2 separate regions of the Homo sapiens genome follow, and region 1 is linked to region 2. The links come from fine-mapping of genetic effects on gene expression. A gene starts in region 2. The other region holds a variant in brackets. All regions are shown on one strand. Distances are between the middles of the regions.

Region 1 (8,317 bases), 170 kb before region 2:
TCCCTCATGCCTGTGGCCTTTGGCACTTGTCACCAGGTCTGACAGGCCCTGAGCTCCTGGGAGAACCAAGACCTTTGTGTCTGGATGATCAGTCGGGGGGCTGCCACCATGGGGACCGCCACACTCTGGGCCCACTCCACTTCAAGGGCAGTGGCCCCTTGGGCTCCAAGGTCTGAGGGTGATGCCGCAGCCTGTGTGGGGTGACGGGCTTGCCTCACGGTTTCCTGATGGTTCAAATTGAAGTTTCATTACTGATGGTTCAAATTGAAGTTTCATTACTGCCTCTGCGCGTGGGAAGAAGCCAGCAAGCAGGTGAAGGGTCAGTGAGGGTAGCGGCTTGGTGGGGCCCAAGGTTGTCACACGGGGGGGCAGGATCACCCCATCAGGGTAGAGGGGGCGTCTGGGGGCTCCAGGGAGGGCAAGCTCATGTTGGATGAGGCTGCCCTTGGGAGGCAGGAGAGGGGACCAGGACCAGCCTGTGGGCCTCTGTGTTGCTGGTCTTTCAGAAGAGCGCAAGGAATCCACGTTAGAAACCGGCCATCTCTACAGTGACTTTTGGAAGGGGCATTCTGAAGACCTGGCTTCTCCCTTGTGAGTTTGGAGGGAGGGAGGGGCGACAGGGAGAGGTCTGGGGCCAGGACCCCAGCTCCACCCCGCCCCCTTCACCCCTGGCATTCCGGGACCCTCAGTATCCTCAACTGCAAGGTGGGTGGCAGTGGTCCCAGGCGGAGACAATGCTGATCAAACGCAGAGCCCAGCACCTTAGGTCCTAGCATTTTGGGGCTGGCCAGGGCTTCAGAGTCCCAGAGGCCTGAGACGTGTCCCCAGGATAGGGGGTCTGCCCATCTCCGGGGTATCCTCCTGACCTCAGCTGCAGCGCCTCCCCCCTCCCCCATCCCCGCCTGGGCTTCCTCTGCACTCAGGGCTCCAGGTGAGGTGGGTGTCAGGTCCCTGACCACTGCCCCCTCTCTCTCCTGACTCAGGACAAGGGGGAAGTGGGTGATCCCCGCCCTGGAGGCCCAGGCTACTCACTCAGAGTCGGAGCCATCGGCCTGGGCGCTCCCAGTGCGCACATTCATGGCCACCCCGTTGAGGTGGTCACGCCCCGGCTCCCTCCCAGGGCTCTTGACTGTGATGGCGCAGTCGGGGCCGCCAGAGCCCAGGGAAGACGTGCGCGAGGATGTGGGGCTCTGCTCACAGTCGGCCAGCTTCTCCCGGAGCCGGCCCTTCAGCGTCTGCTCCGTCAGCGTCAGCGGCGGCGGGTAGGTGACTTTATTTTTCAAGATGCCTGGGAGGAGGAGACACGGCAAGGTCAAGTCCGGGTGATGCTGCCGGGGGCAGCTGCTGGGCCGTGTGCAGCTGAGCCAGCCTCAGCCCCTGTCCTTCCTCCTGGTTCCCCGGGTCCCAGGGCTAGGCCAGGAGGCCACGTCTGTTCTGCCCAGGCCCTGACTTGCCCCACCAGCCCCAGCCCCACTCCCACCTCCAGACCAGGGACTGGCCCTTCTGGGTCCTCCAGCCTTTCACTGCAGCCCCGGCCTCCCCAGGCACCTTTCCTCTGCTCTGGGGGCTGGCTGCTAGCAAGCCTGGCTGCGCCCCCGCTCTCCTGGTCCGGGGGGTACTCTCCACGGTGACTGCCCTGCTCCTCGCGGTGCAGCTCCACGCTGACCTTGGTCTCCACCTTCAGGCGGGGCTTGCCGCTGGGGTCCTCACTGTCACTCTCAGCCAGGCTCTGGTCGGGCCAGCCGGCCGGAACGTGGTTGGCCACAGCGTCCCCTGAGGCACGAGAGCGGTGCTCAGCAGGCAGCGGCACTGCCACTCGAGCTGCTCCCTTGAGAGCCATGGGTCTGGTGGCTCTGACCCACCTCTCCCCAACCTGCAGGCCTGGTAGGGCTGAACCCTAAAGGTGGGGAAACTGAGGCCCAGGAGGGCGAGTCCTGGCAGCAGGGCCCTTGTTGGGAGCCCCCGCCGCATCTGTACCAGTAACTATACAGGCTAATCCCCCACTGGCAGCCTCACCTGGACCTTGCGGTGACAGTCCACAGAGACCCCCCTGAGAGTTCCTGCCTCCGCTCAGGGGGTTGGCCTGGAGGAGCCCTCCAGAGGCTGTGGGGGAGCCCAACCAGAGTCCCCCCACCCCAGGCTGTCCTTTCATGTGGCTGCAGTGCTGCTGGGCATATCCTGGGAGGAAGGGACCCAGCCATAGCCAAGGCCTGCCCCGAGCCCGCTGTCCACAGCCCAGCCTGGCCCAATGTGCCCCACACACTCACCTTTGGGGGTGCTGTGGACGGCGCCCCTGGCCGGGTCCCATTTTTCCTCAGCTCCCACCCCATCGTCCTCGCTGTCTGACGAGTGTGAGGAGGCGTAAGAGCTGCTCTGCTCATCCAGGGACAGCTCGCTATCTGAGTCGGAATCGTGGCCTGTGGATGCGCGGGGGACAGGGAGGCTCAGGCCCTGGGAGGTGAGGGAGTCCCACCGAGGGCCAAGCAGAGCCACTGGGCCCCTGGCATGCTGACGCTGAGCATGGCGAGGCTGCTAGTGCTTCTTCAGGGGCAGTCTGTCCAGTGACCGAAGGGACGTGGGAAAAACAACCCACGGGGTCCTCCCCCTCCAGGGAAGCCATACCAGGGGGATCCTTGCAGCTCCTGGGCATGAGGGACGCGTCTGGCTCTCCGTGGCTGCCCCTCACCAGCCCAGAGGACACGCCGAGCTTCTGGATCCCTTCATCCCTAGAGAGGCCAGGGAGGGTGGGCTCAGTATCATCCGTCAGGGAACAGGAGGTGCTGGAAAGTTCTCTGGAAGATTCTCTGCCCCTACCCCTTCTGTGTTCCCAACAACAGCACAGACAAAACAGCCTCCCGAGTATGTGGGGGAAAGGTGGTGGGGGGAAAGGTTGGGTGGGGGGAAGGTGGTGGGTGGAAAGGTTGGGTGGGGGAAGGTGGTGGGGGGAAAGGTTGGGTGGGGGAAGGTGGTGGGGGGAAAGGCTGGGTGGGGGAAAGGTGGTGGGGGGAAAGGCTGGGGGGGAAGGTGGTGGGGGGAAAGGTTGGGGGGAAGGTGCTGGGGGAAAGGTTGGGGGGAAAGGTTGTCAGGGGAAAGGTGGAGGGGGAAGGTGGAGGGGGGAAGGCTGCGGGGGGAAGGTGCAGTGCGGGGAAGGTGCGGGGGGGAAGGTTGCACGGGAAAAGGTTGGTTGGGGGAAGTTGGTGGGGGAAAGGTTGTTGGGGGAAGGTGCAGGGGAAGGGAAGGTGCGAGGCGGGGAGGGAAGGTGCGGGGCAGGGAGGGAAGTTGCGGGTGGGAAGAAGGTGCGGGTGGAAAGTTGGGGGTGGAAGGTGATGTTGGTTGAATGGCAGGACACAGGTTGGGGTGGCAGGGGCAAAACCTGAGGGAGTTCGAGAGCCACCTCCCCGAACCCGGAGCTGCGGCCTGACCTGACGATGCTGTCCAGCGAGGCGGTGGACTCGCCCAAGTCTGTGCGCAGCATGTCAGGCCCGTCACCGAAGGTGGTGTTGCAGTTGAGGGAGCGCTGAAGGGAGGGGAGGGGCTGGTCACTGCCAAGTGGTGGCCACCACATGACCACCACGGGGAATGACTCTGTCCCCACGGCAAGCCCCCCACACCCACACCCTGGCTGGGCCCCTGCCTGGCACACAGGAGGAGCTGGCCCCAAGCAGTCAACCCTCACTGCAAACGAGAGCCTCCTGGCAGCTGAGGGAAGCACATCCTGGCCCGCGCTGTGGTCAGGGGCTGCCGCCCTCCCTACGGCCACTGCTTCTGGTCAGGATCCTCGGTGGTCCTGACCCTCTCTTTCTAAGGCCTGGAAGAGCAGGGTTAGGATGCGACCCAGGCCCCATCTGGCCGATTCTGTCACTTTCTGGTTCTGACGCGGCAGCCACACCGTGCACCGCGGGCGGCTCTGCCATCCCCACCGTGAGGGGCATACGGGCCGCAGGACTGGGGCTGAGGCTCGATCACCCTCCCCCGCCCCTCGAGATGCCGCCCAGCCCCCAGTCCCGCGGTGTCCCCGGCGCCTCCTACCGTCAGCAGGGTGGCCCTGGTGGTGGCGGAGTCCTCCAGGTGCAGCTTCCTCCCGCCGAGCACGCCCTTCAGGTGCTTCCGGACCTCCTGGTTGAGCACGCAGTGGAAAAGGAGGACGAAGGGGCCCTGGAGGGAGGAAGGTGGGGTCAGCACCTGCTGCTGCCTCCCTAGGCACCTGCCCTTAGGCGCCCCAGCACAGATGCGCATACAGCCTTGAGTGCACACAACATGTCCGGCCACACGGCCCAGGACACGGCCAGGCCTCCCCTCCTCAGGGACTGCTGCTATCTGGAGGCCAGGTGGGGGAGCTCAGAAACTGAGATGCCTGGGCCAGACCCCCGGTGTGCTGGAGGCAGTGAGGGCCCCGGCTCAGGCCAGTCTTCTGGGCACTCCTTCCACAGTCCTTGGGGCCCCTCTGGGGTCCCCACTGTGTCGTAAGTCCACTTGCTGTGTGGCCCTTGGTATGACTAGAAATGGCCACTTCTGTTCCCTGGAGACACAAGTGGACTTGTGCTGGCCTGGCACTAGGGTCATCGTCCCCAGACACAGTGGGGAGGAGGCACCAGCCCCCGTGCCGGCTGCACAAGGGACTGAGTCCTCACAGCCACAGGA[G/A]GCCCCCACGCGGGACCCAGGCAGGGCTGGTTTGGGACCGCAGAGGCCTCCACTGCTTCGCATCACAGCGATGGTGTCACGGCGGCCAGGCAGGGGTCCCGCGGGCAACTCGGCCGTCACCTACCTGTAAGCCGCTGAAGATGGCGAAGAGGTAGTGAAAGCTCAGTGCATCGCGGTTCACAGCCAGCAGCCCCAGCAGCCAGGTGGCGCTGATGAGCAGCAGCAGGAGGAATGCGGTCCTCAGCAGGGAGCTGCGGGAGGGCAGGATCAGGCCTGTGCCCATCGCCACCACCTGCTCCCTTCCTCCCTCCCTCTCTGCACGTCCACCTGTCCACCTGCCTGCCCGTCCGCCCATCTATCTGTCCGTCCACCTGTCCACCCAGCCATCATCCACCTTGCTCCCTTCCTCCCCTCGTAGCCAGGTACGGACTCATCCGGGAACCAGACAGAGCTCGTGTTAGTGGGGGTGGTGGTGGAATACATTAGGAAGCAAATGAGAAAACAGGAGCTGTGAGGACTACACCAGGCCAAGGGGCCTGAGCCATGCCCATGGCTGCACTAGCTCCCGTGAGATACCCTGTGGAGAGGCAAGAGGAAGAGCCCAGGACCTGCCCTTGAGCTGTGACCCTGCAATCAGCTTCCTGAGCTCTGCCTCAGTCTCCCCATGTGTACAAGGGGAAGACAAAGGCGCATCCCCTCCCAGGGTTCAGAGGGGATGGAGTGAATCCGGGTGACAGAGCCCGCAAGGTCCACAGGTCGTGGATGGCACTGAAGACGAGGAACTGACAAGGCCCCAGACCCCCCGTGCACCCCCATATCCGGCCTTCCAGGCCACTCACTGCCTCTCCCTCTCTGCCCTACCCCCCTTCAGACTCGGCTCTCTCCTCCCGGGCCGGGAGCCTCACACTCCTCCTGACACCCAGCCCCTGCGCAAGCATTATCCCTTCGCCCATCCCTGGCTCAGTCCCATCTCAGCTACCAGGTCACCAGGGGCTGGCCTTGTTGTCTGACAGATGCCCCCGTCAACCCCTCCTGACCCTGTCGTGGCTCCTGGACGCTGTGCTGAGTCCTCCCGCGGTGCCACCTGCTCCTTTGGGGCCTCGAAGGTCCCCTCTCCTCCCTAGAACACTGGAGGTTCCCTCTGTGCTGGGCCCCTGTTCCACTGCACCCTCTGACAGTGGGGTGGGGGGGTCTCCTCCCCTCCAGTGGCCTCAGCAACACCCTCACCACCCACCAGAAAGTTTCATCTCCCCCACCCCACCCATCTCCACTCTGGGGATTCCAGACAGCCCAATACTTCTGTGCCAGGCGGGAGGGACTGAGGCCCAGGACTGGCTGCCAGCCCCCTCCCTTCAGCTAACCTCCTCCAGCCCCCTCCCCTCAGCTAACCTCCCCCAGCCCCTGCAGGTGCAACGTGGCAAACCTCTCTGGAGCCCTGGGGCTCACCCAGGCTGCCCCCAGCCCTCCTCCATGAGGCCTACACGCTCTCATGGGGCCCCACCCCGCAGAGACTGGACGTCGGGGTCTCAGGGCCCAGCCGACATGGCTGGCCGGTCAGGTTCAGCCCCACTTACACGATCCCTTTTTTCCCATAATAATGGTGCTTTCTTTGGCAGGAAACCTTTGCAGATAGGACAGAAGTGACTGTGTTGATCTGAAAACAAAACAAGCCGATCAATGTCTTCTCTCTCGTCACTGCAGACCTCCAACTGCCAAAAGCGCCTGAGGCCCTTCGCCCTGTCAGGGAGGGGTGGCTGGGTGAGGAGGACCCGAACCCTGGCCTGTGGGGCGAAGCACACCTGTCCACCCACTGCCCCACAGCGCCCACCACACCCAGCCTGCCTGTGCGGGACCCTCCTGGGTGCTGGACGCAGATGGTCTCATGCGGACACGACGCGAGACCTGAATCCACGATCAGAGGGTGAGGTCCGGGAGGGCCCTGGCGGCTTTGCTGACTGTTACAAGGTGGCCCTTCCTGCCCCCCGTCGGCTGCTCAGAGGAGTTGGTGGCCCCAGCCAACCCAGAACAGCCCTTCCAGCTCATGCATGTTTGGGGCACCCGGACTCCCGTGAAGGCCCCACACTCACGATTATAACAGCTCCGATGGGCCCCGCAAAGCTCCAAATCAGGGTGTCTTGAAGCGACAGCCAGCAGAAGTCGGGGTTCCCGTAGCCCTGGGGGTCCAGGCCGACCGCCAGTCCTGAACACAGCGGGGAGGAAGGGAAGGGTGAGGGCCACGTGCCCAGTGGCCACCCCATGCCAAGGACCAGCCAGGGTGGGGTGAAATGGGGGACTCAGCATCTCCCTTCTCAGAGGAAGGAGCAAGGAGTCCAGGGAGCCAGCCCAGGGCCCCTCCAAGCACAGTCTCTCCGTGTAGGGTCTCAGGCTCACTGGCCCAGGTGGCAGGAGCTGCTCCTGGATTGGCCCCATGAGGCAGGGGGCGTATCTGGGCCGGGGGCTGCTGAGGAAGACCAGAGACCCTGGAGGGTGGCAGTGAGATGGTGCAGGAGGGATCGTGAAGGCAGACGGTGCTTGGGAGGACCCTGCCAGCTGGGCCATGTAGAGGTCAGGAGGCCATGATGGACCCAAGGTGCAAGGGATGAGGCTCCAAAACAGATGGAGGACGGCGTCACCTACAGGGCCATATGTGAGCGGGTGAGGAACGCATATACCCCCATACCACATCCAACCACGTGCACATGCCATACACATGTACATACCCTATACACATGCATGCAGACACACATACCGTGTGCAGACACGCATCACAGATATACACACACACCACAGAGGCACACACCATACACACGTGCACACCACACACACACCCCCGAAACTGCCTCACCACCGAGCCTGCTATACGAGCTGCTTGTTTAGATAGAGGAAGAAATGCTCTGAAGCACAGTTGTCACTCCCAGCCACAGTGTGACAAACCAGATCCGCCTGTCCATGCAGAGCATCAAGGTGACACTTGGGACAGGAGCAACCAGCAGGTGAGACCTGGTCTTTCTGTGCCCCTTGCCCCACCCTGGCCTAGGCTATGCTCCTCCCCACTCTCCTTATTTAAATATTGAAGAGATCCCAGCTCCCTCCTGTTTAACACCCTCCAGCACTTCCCACTGCCCTCTGGAGGAGCCAGTTAACCAGGACCACTGAGGACAGTCAGGGAAGCCCTGGATGGCCGGGGGAGGCAGCAGCCAGTGACCAGTGCCTGCAGCTCAGTCTGAGGCTCCCCGGGAGTTATTTTAAGATCTTGTACAAGACAGACCTAAGTGTTAAACAAAACAAACCGAAACCTGTTTTTAAAGCAAGTAGGAAACGTGAACTATCTGGATTTAGAGTCCAAAGGGCAGAGGCATCGCAGAGACCTGCTCCGCCTGGACATCGAGGTGGCTTTTCGACAAAGCCATACGAGCCCCTTTCTAGGCCATGTTCTTCATCTCAGCGTCTCTCACAGTAAGCACCTAATCTAGGCAAGGTATCGCCTCCCTGTCACATCAGGAAGTGGCGGCTGCCACCCCGCCCAACCTGCCCCCACCTCAGTGGCCCTGGGTGGAGGTGAAAAAGGTTCTTCAGGGTCCCTTAGAGTAAGGGAGATGAGTCACATCAGAACACCCTAGCCAGGAGCCTGCCTGGTTGGAGGCTGGTCAGTGACGTTGCTGTGGAGACCAGGACG
Region 2 (8,317 bases):
TAGTTTGGGCTTATAAATAAGGTCACCTGCCTGCACCAGCATCCTTGGATGCACGGTCAGGCAAACCTCAAAGAGCCACTGGGGGACCTTTACTGTTCCCCCAGGCCCCTCGAAGTTCTTCTCTCTCTTCTGTGTCTCCCAATTCCAACACTTTCTATTAGTCCCCCTCCCCAGCACCGCAGACCAGCCCCGGCACACAGGGTCAGAGGCATAGAGGACCGGCCAAACTTCTGACTGCTGAGCCAAGGTTTCCTCTCCCTCCTGTTCACCTCCAGCCCCAGAGCAGGTGAGCGAGGTGCCCACACTGGCTCCACCACTAACTGGGCAGGCCTCTTCAACAGCACCCAAATTACAAGCCCGCATCCAGGAGCAGAAGCCAAGATCAAATGAGGCTATGCTTTTCAAAGAGCTTGCACAAAGCCCTACACACCTAAGCCCGACTGTTATTATCTGCAGGAGACAGAAAAGCCAGACCAAGGGAACACCGGCTGCATTATAGGGTGACTCAGGGACCCATCTGACAATTCCAACGGTCCCACCCTGGAATTAATTGGCACTGGGAAGGGGCAGTGACCTCTGATCTTCCCAGAGAGCCCTGTGGCTGGCTGACGAAAGAGCATCTCCAAGCAAATCCTGTGACCCAGATCACCTGGAGGCCACTTTTTAATAGCTGTACTCAGGAGCCACTAGCCTGCTGAGGAAGGCGCTGATCCCCGGTCTTGAACTTGGGAGAACCGCAGGCCTGCTCCCAGGAAAATGCTGACGGAAGCGGCGCGGTGCCTCTCCCCCTCGCTGGGCCTAGGCCGGGCGCCCACCCCCAGCATCCAACCGGCGGCAACAAATCCTTGCAGAGTTGCCCGGGCCCGGCCCAATTGCGCCCCGGCATGCCAGGCGGAGCCCTTGGCGGGTTCCTGAGGCTCTCCAGGAGGCCCATCAGGAGCTACTCCTCCCACCCCGACGGCCACTCACCAGACACAGACACCTCCATGAGCGCCTCCAGCGGCCGGTTGTTGTCCAGGTCGCGGCTGAGCTGCAGTTCGCCCGTGGCGGGGTCCAGCAGCAACAGGCGCAGCTCGTTGCCCTGCACGAAGGTGTAGTTGAGGCTGTCTGACACGTCGGGGTCATGGGCCGGGATGCAGCCGATCACGCCGGTGGGGAAACTGTTGGACTTGTTGGTGACATAGTTGTTGAAGAGGATCTGGAAGTCGGGCAGCACAGGCGGGTTGTCATTCTGGTCCACGAGAAGGATGTGCACCGTGGCTCGGCTCACCAGCGGAGCCGACGTGGCCTGCACCACCAGCACATACTCCCGCCGGACCTCAAAGTCCAGCTCCACCATGGCACGCAGGTCCCCGTTGAGCAGGTCCAGCTGGAAGAAATGCCGCATGTCCCCTTCCACAATCTGATACATGATCTGGGCATTAGGGCCTTCATCAGGGTCGTTAGCACGAATCTTTGCCACCACCGACCCCACTGGGTTGTTCTCCTCAACAAACAGCTCCAGTTCGTCCTTCTCAAACATGGGGGCATTGTCATTAATGTCCAAGATGGTCACCTGGATTTCTACCGAGGCGCTAAGGGGAGTGGGACTGCCCCGATCCACAGCCAGAGCCCAAAGGTTGTACACGGCCACATTCTCCCGGTCCAGCCGGCGCTGGGTGCGAATCACACCGGACGTGGGCTCGATGTAGAAGTCCCCATCGCCGTCGTCCCCACCCTGGAAGGTGTACAGCAGACGCCCATTGGGACCTGAGTCCCGGTCCGTGGCAGAGACCTGGAGGATGCTGGTCGAGGGTGGAGCATCCTCAAAGATGGAACCCTGGTAGAAATCCCACAGGAACTGGGGTGCATTGTCATTGGCATCGAGGATGAGGATCTCTAGGGTGGTGGTGTCTGATTTCTGCGGGATGCCGTTGTCCTGGGCCATGATGGTCAGCGTGTAGGCGACCTGGTTCTCATAGTCCAGCTCCATCATGGTGTACATGGTGCCACTGTCGGGGTCAATGCGGAACTGCGGCACGGGGTCCTGAATCACGTAGGTGATGCGGGCATTCTCTCCTGTGTCCTCATCGTTGGCACTGAGGGTAGCAATGGAGGTGCCCACAGGCCTGTCCTCACTGACACTCACTGTGTAATGGGAGCTCTGAAAGACAGGCCTGTGGGTGTTGGCATCAGTGACGTTGATTAGGACATGCGCAGTGTGCGACCGTGTGCCGTCGGATGCTGTCACCGCCAGCACGTACTGCTGCTCCTGCTTGTAGTCCAGAGGTAGCGCCAGGGTGATGAGGCCGCCCCCTCTCTGGCTGCTGAGTGCAAAGCGGTTCCGGGTGTTGCCGCCTGTGAGCTGGTAGGTAATCACACTGTTGGCGTCACGGTCGCGGGCCTGCAGGGTCAGCACGCTGCTCCCCACGGCCGCATCCTCATTCAGACGAAGCTCGTAGGTGGGCTGCGTGAACACCGGGTCGTTGTCATTCACGTCCAGCACCGTGATGGACACGCTGGTGGAGGAGCTCATGGGGGGCGAGCCGTGGTCCACCGCCTCCACCCCGAAGCTGTAGTGCTCCACCTCCTCGCGGTCCAGCTCGGCACACACTGTGATCCAACCGGAGCTGTTGTGGATCTGGAAGGGGAAGTCAGGGGTGGGGGCAGGATTCTTAGGCCCAGCGCTGCCGCCCCCCAGAAAGGTGGAGGCCGTGTCCACCAGGCGATAGTGCAGCCGGGCGTTCTCTCCAGAGTCCGCGTCCACCGCCTGAATGTGCACCACGGGGTAGCCCAGGGGCACATTCTCCAGCACCGTGGCCTGGAAGGGGCTGCTCACAAAGATAGGCTCGTTGTCGTTGACATCCAGCACCTGCACAGACACCACCCCTGAAGAATTGATGAGCGGGGGCCGGCCCCCATCCTGGGCCTTAATGCTCAGCGAGTATTTCTGGACATCCTCGAAATCCAAGGGGTTGATCACATCCAGGATCCCGCTCAGCGAGTGCAGGTAGAACTGGCCGGCCACGTTCCCGCTGAGGATGCTGTAGTGAATGGCCGCGTTCTGGCCCTGGTCCCGGTCCGTGGCCTGCACTCGCAGCACAGCCGTGTTGAGCCCCACGTCCTCGGGCACCTGGACCACGTAGTTCTGCTCGCTGAACTGGGGGTAGTTGTCGTTCTCGTCCTCCACCTCGATGTACACGGTGGCCGTGGCACTGAGCGGGCCCGGATTGCGCCCCTGGTCGTTGGCCTCCACCAGGAGCTGGTACTCGGCCGCCTCCTCCCGGTCCAGCACCGCCCGTGTGCTCACCACGCCAGAGCTCTCGTTGAGCTGGAAGACGTCCCACGCGCCCCCCAACACGCGGTAACGCAAGTTGGCGTTGATGGGCGAGTCGCGGTCGCTGGCGCGGATGGTCAGCACCTCGTAGCCCACCTCCAGGTTCTCCCGCACGCGCTCGCGGTACTCCGACTGCTCGAAGACCGGGCTGTGGTCGTTGGTGTCTTTGACCAAGACAGTGATGTAGGTGGTGGCCGAGCGCGGCGGCGTACTGTAGTCCACGGCTTTCACCCTGAGGACGTGCGTCTCCTTGGTCTCGCGGTCCAGTACGCTGTCCGTGCTCACGGCGCCCGTGGCAGAGTCGATTCGGAAGTAGCCCCGGGAGCGCTCGTCGAACAGCCCCTCCATGTAATAGCTCACGCGCTCCTCCTCGCCCTCGATGGTGTAGTGCGCGTGCAGCTGGAGGATGAGGGTGCCCGCCGGTTCGTTCTCAAACAACGCCACCTGGTAGTTGGGCATCGGAAACTTCAGGCTCCCTCTGCCGCTCGTGCCCCGCCGGGCCCGTCGCGCCGGCCCCGCCCGGGCTTCGGGCAAGTTCGGCGGCAGGGGCGGCGATGGGGATGGCGACGCGGAGGGCGTCCCCGCGGTGGCGGCCTCCAGCGCCAGTCCCACCCGGACGGCGCCAGCCGCGCGCCGCAGGGCGCACAGCAGACGCAGGCGGACCGAGCCGCCCGGCGGCAGGCAGATGGGACGGCCGGGACAGCGGGGCCTGGGGCGCGGCGGGCAGCGGCAGGCGGGTAAGGTGGTCGGAGCTGCGAGCGCCGAATGCTGCGCGGCCGCGCAGCCGCCGGGGACGGGGAAGCAGAGCGCCCCGCAGAGCCGGGCACCGGTTCCGCAGAGCCGGGCACGGGCTCCGCAGCCGGGAAGGTGCGTGCGCGCCCGCAGGCGGCGGCTCAGCGCCGTCGGGGCACTGCGGGCCACCAAGCGGACTTGCAGCGGCAGCGGGCGCCCCGCGCCCGAGACGCGCCGACGTCCTGCCAGCCGCCCATCGCGGCCCACGTCCAGCAGCTCCCGCGGCGCCCGGGGCGTGCAAGCGGCGCCCACCGCGTAGGTACAGCCGGGCCGGAGGGCGAAGGCGCGGGTCCCGCCGGGTACGCGCGGCTCCCAGGCGGCCGCTCGCAGCCCCATCGCCGGCAGGGCGGCGGCGGCGGCCAGGAGCAGCAGCACGGGCAGCACGGGCGGCGGCGGCGGCGCCATGGCCCGGAGCCCGAGCCCGAGCCGGGCGCCCGAACACAATCCATGCACCCGGCGCGCCTCCGCATCCACCCGGCGAGGCCGGGGAGCGGCTCCCGGGCGCCCGGCCCTCGGGGCGGTCCGCGTCCCGCCTCCCCGGGGGCCCTGGCGGGGACTGTGGGGACCACGCGCCCGGCCTCCCCCGCAGCTTCCACTTCGAGAGCACTTTGCGAAAGTTTGCGAAGTTGGTTTCAAGATGGCTCCTCCGCGCGTCCCGGGAGGGCGCCGCGCATCAACCTGCGGCGGCGGCGGCGGCTCCAGGCGGCTCCAGGTGGCTCCGGCGCGGGCTCGGCCGGACGGGCGTGGGAAGCGGGGCGGGCCCGGCGCGGGGCGGGGGCTGAGTTCCCGGAGCGGGCTGGGCAGCTCCGCGCCGCGCAGACCCCGGCGGCCGGCTGCTGCCTGGGCGGTGCGCTTGGCCCGCGCCCACTCCGCCCGCGCTCTCCCCGCCCCCGGCCCGGCCCCGCCCCGCCCCCGGCCCAGCGGCGTATTGTTCGGCCCCGGGGGGAGCCGGCTCGGAGGTGCGCGCCGAGAGGATCGCTATGGAGACGCGAGGGCGCGGCCGGGACGGGGACTGGGGCCCTACTCCCCGGAGGCCTCCCCACCCAGCCTCCCGGTGGGGCGGGGCCGAGGCAACAGGGCCGGGAAAGGTGGGGCTGGGGCCCCCGGTGGCCGCTACCCGTGGGGCGGTGGCTCCGCACCTCGGGCTCGGGGCCGCGGCTCAGAGCCTGGCTCCCCACCCCGGCAGAACAGATCCACGGAGACCGCCGCCAGGAGTGCCGCGCGGGTAGGACCCGGGGGCGGAGGACTGGGGCCGAGAGGCCGGGGAGCCCCCCCCCACCCATTAAGGACTGCGGAGGCTGTCGAGGAGGGTTACCCATTTTACAGCAAGACGCACGGAGGCTAAAATGCTTCACCCCGACTAAAACTCCCTGGACTTTGAAGCCCAATAGGCAGCTACCGGATCTGCGTCCCACTTGGTTTAAAGCGCAACTTTTAAATGAAAGAAGAAAACCCCGGTTGACATAAGGGATTTGGAGAGGACGGCGGAGGCGCGCTCATCTCCCGCGTGCGGCCCGACCCGAGCGTTCGCGGACGCATCGCGGAATCCCCGAGCGTCCGGCTCCTCCCGAAGCGGGTTGCGGGGAAGGCGGGGGGCTGCGGGTCCTGGAAGCTGCCTGGGGCAAGCAAGCACCCGCAGGGATTTAGAGCTGTGCCACAGCCCCTGCCCAGCCTCCTACGGAGGACAGCGGGGGGCGGGGGGCAGAGACCTTAGAGCTTTCAGAAAAGTGACACACACCCCCGCCTCCTGCGGGGAACCACGGGGGGCCGGGGGCAGCTTTAGGTTTGCGTGACGGGTACACCTGCCTCCGGATGGGGCACAGGGATAAAGGGGGTGGAGGCTTAGGACTTGGCGACCCCCCGCATGGGCGGGGCTTTGGGACTGTGCCACCAGCGGCTGGGAAGGGCGCGCACTCCCTTGGTGGCGCTCGGGGCGCCGGAGTCCAGTGCAGCCCTTAGGCCTCCCAGTGGTCGGGGACGGTAGGTGGGGGTCGCCTCTTCTCTCCTAGAAGGGCTTCTCCTGGGGCCGGTCGGAGCGGTGGGGGTGGGAGTAATGCGCAGTCACCCCTAGAACGGGTCTTTTTGGCAAGGGAGGGTCGGATCCTGCAGCCAAATCTCTGAGCTGAGCTGAGATGAGTCCAGTCTCAACGAGGACCGTGGGCGGCTGTGGAGAACCGGAAGGGTTTCTCCCCCGGAGCGATGTGTCTGTGTGTGTGTCACACGCATACTCAGCCAACTTCGCTCAAAGCTGCTGAAACAGTGTCTTTGTGCTGAAGCCCAATGTGAGCATTTTCTTCCCAGTAGCAAGGATTTGAACACGTTATATTGATCTAAAAGGTGGAGTTGCTTTGGAACCTTTTAATTCGAGGTTTCCACTGGAGAGTCCTGTTGGGAAATGTGTGTGTGGAGGGAGGGGAGGAAGGAGAAAAGTCCGTCTCCTTAATGTGAGCGGTCCAGGACCTCCCCACCCGCCATATACCCTTCCACTGGGATTTTTCCGGGAAGGATGAAAGGACAGGAGTTCTGGGGCCGGAAGGCAGGGCGGGTCCCTGAGCCCGGAGCCTCCCAGTGGAAGGCTACTGGGCGGACCTGAAGGGGACCCAGGCAGGAGGAAAAACCAGAGAACCCCAGGAGTGCCTGTTTTGCAATAAGGCTTTAAGCAGAGTGGGTTGGGTTTAAATAAACAAAACTCAGCTGCAGCCAGTGGGTTCAGGTGTGGGCCTGCTTTTCTGGAATAAGGCACCTGCAGGCTGCGAGGTAACCACAGGGACTGCCCAACACCTAGGGACAGGGGAGGATGGATGAATCTCACTAACAGGATGTCCAGCAAAGACAAAAGATCATTCCATTCACGCTTAGACCGACAGCAAGCCCGACTCCACCATAACGTTTAGAGGTGTGCACAAATAGGGGAAAGATGAAGAAAAACAAGGAGGTGATTATGGGCACATTCAGGAGGGCTCTGGGGGAGGAGGGGCATCCCCTTCTGGACCTGAGGGTTACCAGAGTGTCGGCTTCATGATCACACTTTGAACTCCAAACACATGATTTGCGTACTTTTCCCTATGCCTGCATCTAGAGTCGGCAGTTTTTGTTTTTTTTTGTTTTGTTTTGTTTTGTTTTGTTTTGTTTTTTTGAGACAGAGTTTCACTGTTGTTGCCCAGGCTGGAGTGCAATGGCACGATCTCAGCTTACCACAACCTCCGCCTTCCAGGTTCAAGCAATTCTGCCTCAGCCTCCCTAGTAGCTGGGATTACAGGCGTGCGCCTCACGCCCGGCTAATTTTGTATTTTCAGTAGAGACGGGGTTTCTCCATGTTGGTCAGGCTGGTCTCGAACTCCCAACCTCGTGATCCGCCCACCTCGGCCTCCCAAAGTGCTGGGATTACAGGCATGAGCCACCGTGCCTGGCCTATTTTTATTTATTGCTAAATAGAGATGGGGTCTTGCTATGTTGCCTAGGTTGATCTCAAACTTCTGGGCTCAAGAGATCCTCCCACTTCAGCCTCTCAAAGTGCTAGGATTACAGGTATGAGCCACCACACCCTATTTAGAGTCCACAGTTTTATTTTATTTTACTTTATTTATTTTTGAGACGGAGTTTTGCTCTCTCACCTAGGCTGGAGGACAGTGGCGCGATCTCAGCTCAATGCAACCTCCACCTCCTGGGTTCAAGCAATTCTCCTGCCTCAGCCTCCAGAGTAGCTGGGATTATAGGCACACACCACCAGTCCTGACTAATGTGTGTATGTTTAGTAGAGACGGTTTCGCCATGTTGACCAGGCTGGTCTGGAACTCCTGACCTCAGGTGATCCACCCACCTCAGCCTCCCAAAGTGCTGGGATTACAGGCATGAGCCACCGCGCCGGGCCTAGAATCCACAATTTTAAGTAAGTGGGGAGGGGAGAGGGACTAACAAGACGGAGGCCGCAGCTTGTGCTGAGACGGCCAGGTGGTCCGGCCGCATCAGAAATCACGAGTTTGGAATGACTGGCACCTTCGAGGGGTTGAGCTTTAATTCTGCCACTAACTAGTTGTGTGACCTTCGCCAAGGCCTAACTCCTTGTTCTAACTGGACACAATAGTCCTAGACTCCTAGCGTTGTTGAAGGATTAACAAGACAATCTGTGTGAAGCGGTCGGCACAGGGTCTGGCTCAGGCATGGATCTGCCAGTAATAGCATTTACTATTTTCACAGTTGCTGTTTCCT

Evidence for each region. PIP is the estimated chance that this variant, and not a neighbour inherited with it, causes the effect.
Region 1: its variant is fine-mapped to the expression of CELSR1 in whole blood (INTERVAL, PIP above 0.99).

What each region holds. Positions count from the first base shown.
Region 1 is chr22:46,362,964-46,371,280 of GRCh38, forward strand. It overlaps CELSR1 (cadherin EGF LAG seven-pass G-type receptor 1), which reads right to left. Exons shown (of 35, transcript NM_001378328.1): 26 at 6,729-6,841; 27 at 6,216-6,295; 28 at 4,766-4,892; 29 at 4,030-4,155; 30 at 3,423-3,517; 31 at 2,623-2,726; 32 at 2,268-2,417; 33 at 1,549-1,773; 34 at 1,033-1,288; 35 at 1-284. The coding sequence ends at 260. Among named protein-coding and RNA genes, the nearest start is that of TRMU, 31 kb to the left of the region's middle. RefSeq lists an enhancer at 4,943-5,002. The variant G/A (reference allele first, on the strand shown) is at 4,642.
Region 2 is chr22:46,532,658-46,540,974 of GRCh38, forward strand. CELSR1 (cadherin EGF LAG seven-pass G-type receptor 1) reads right to left here and starts at 4,963. Exons shown (of 35, transcript NM_001378328.1): 1 at 970-4,963. The coding sequence starts at 4,513.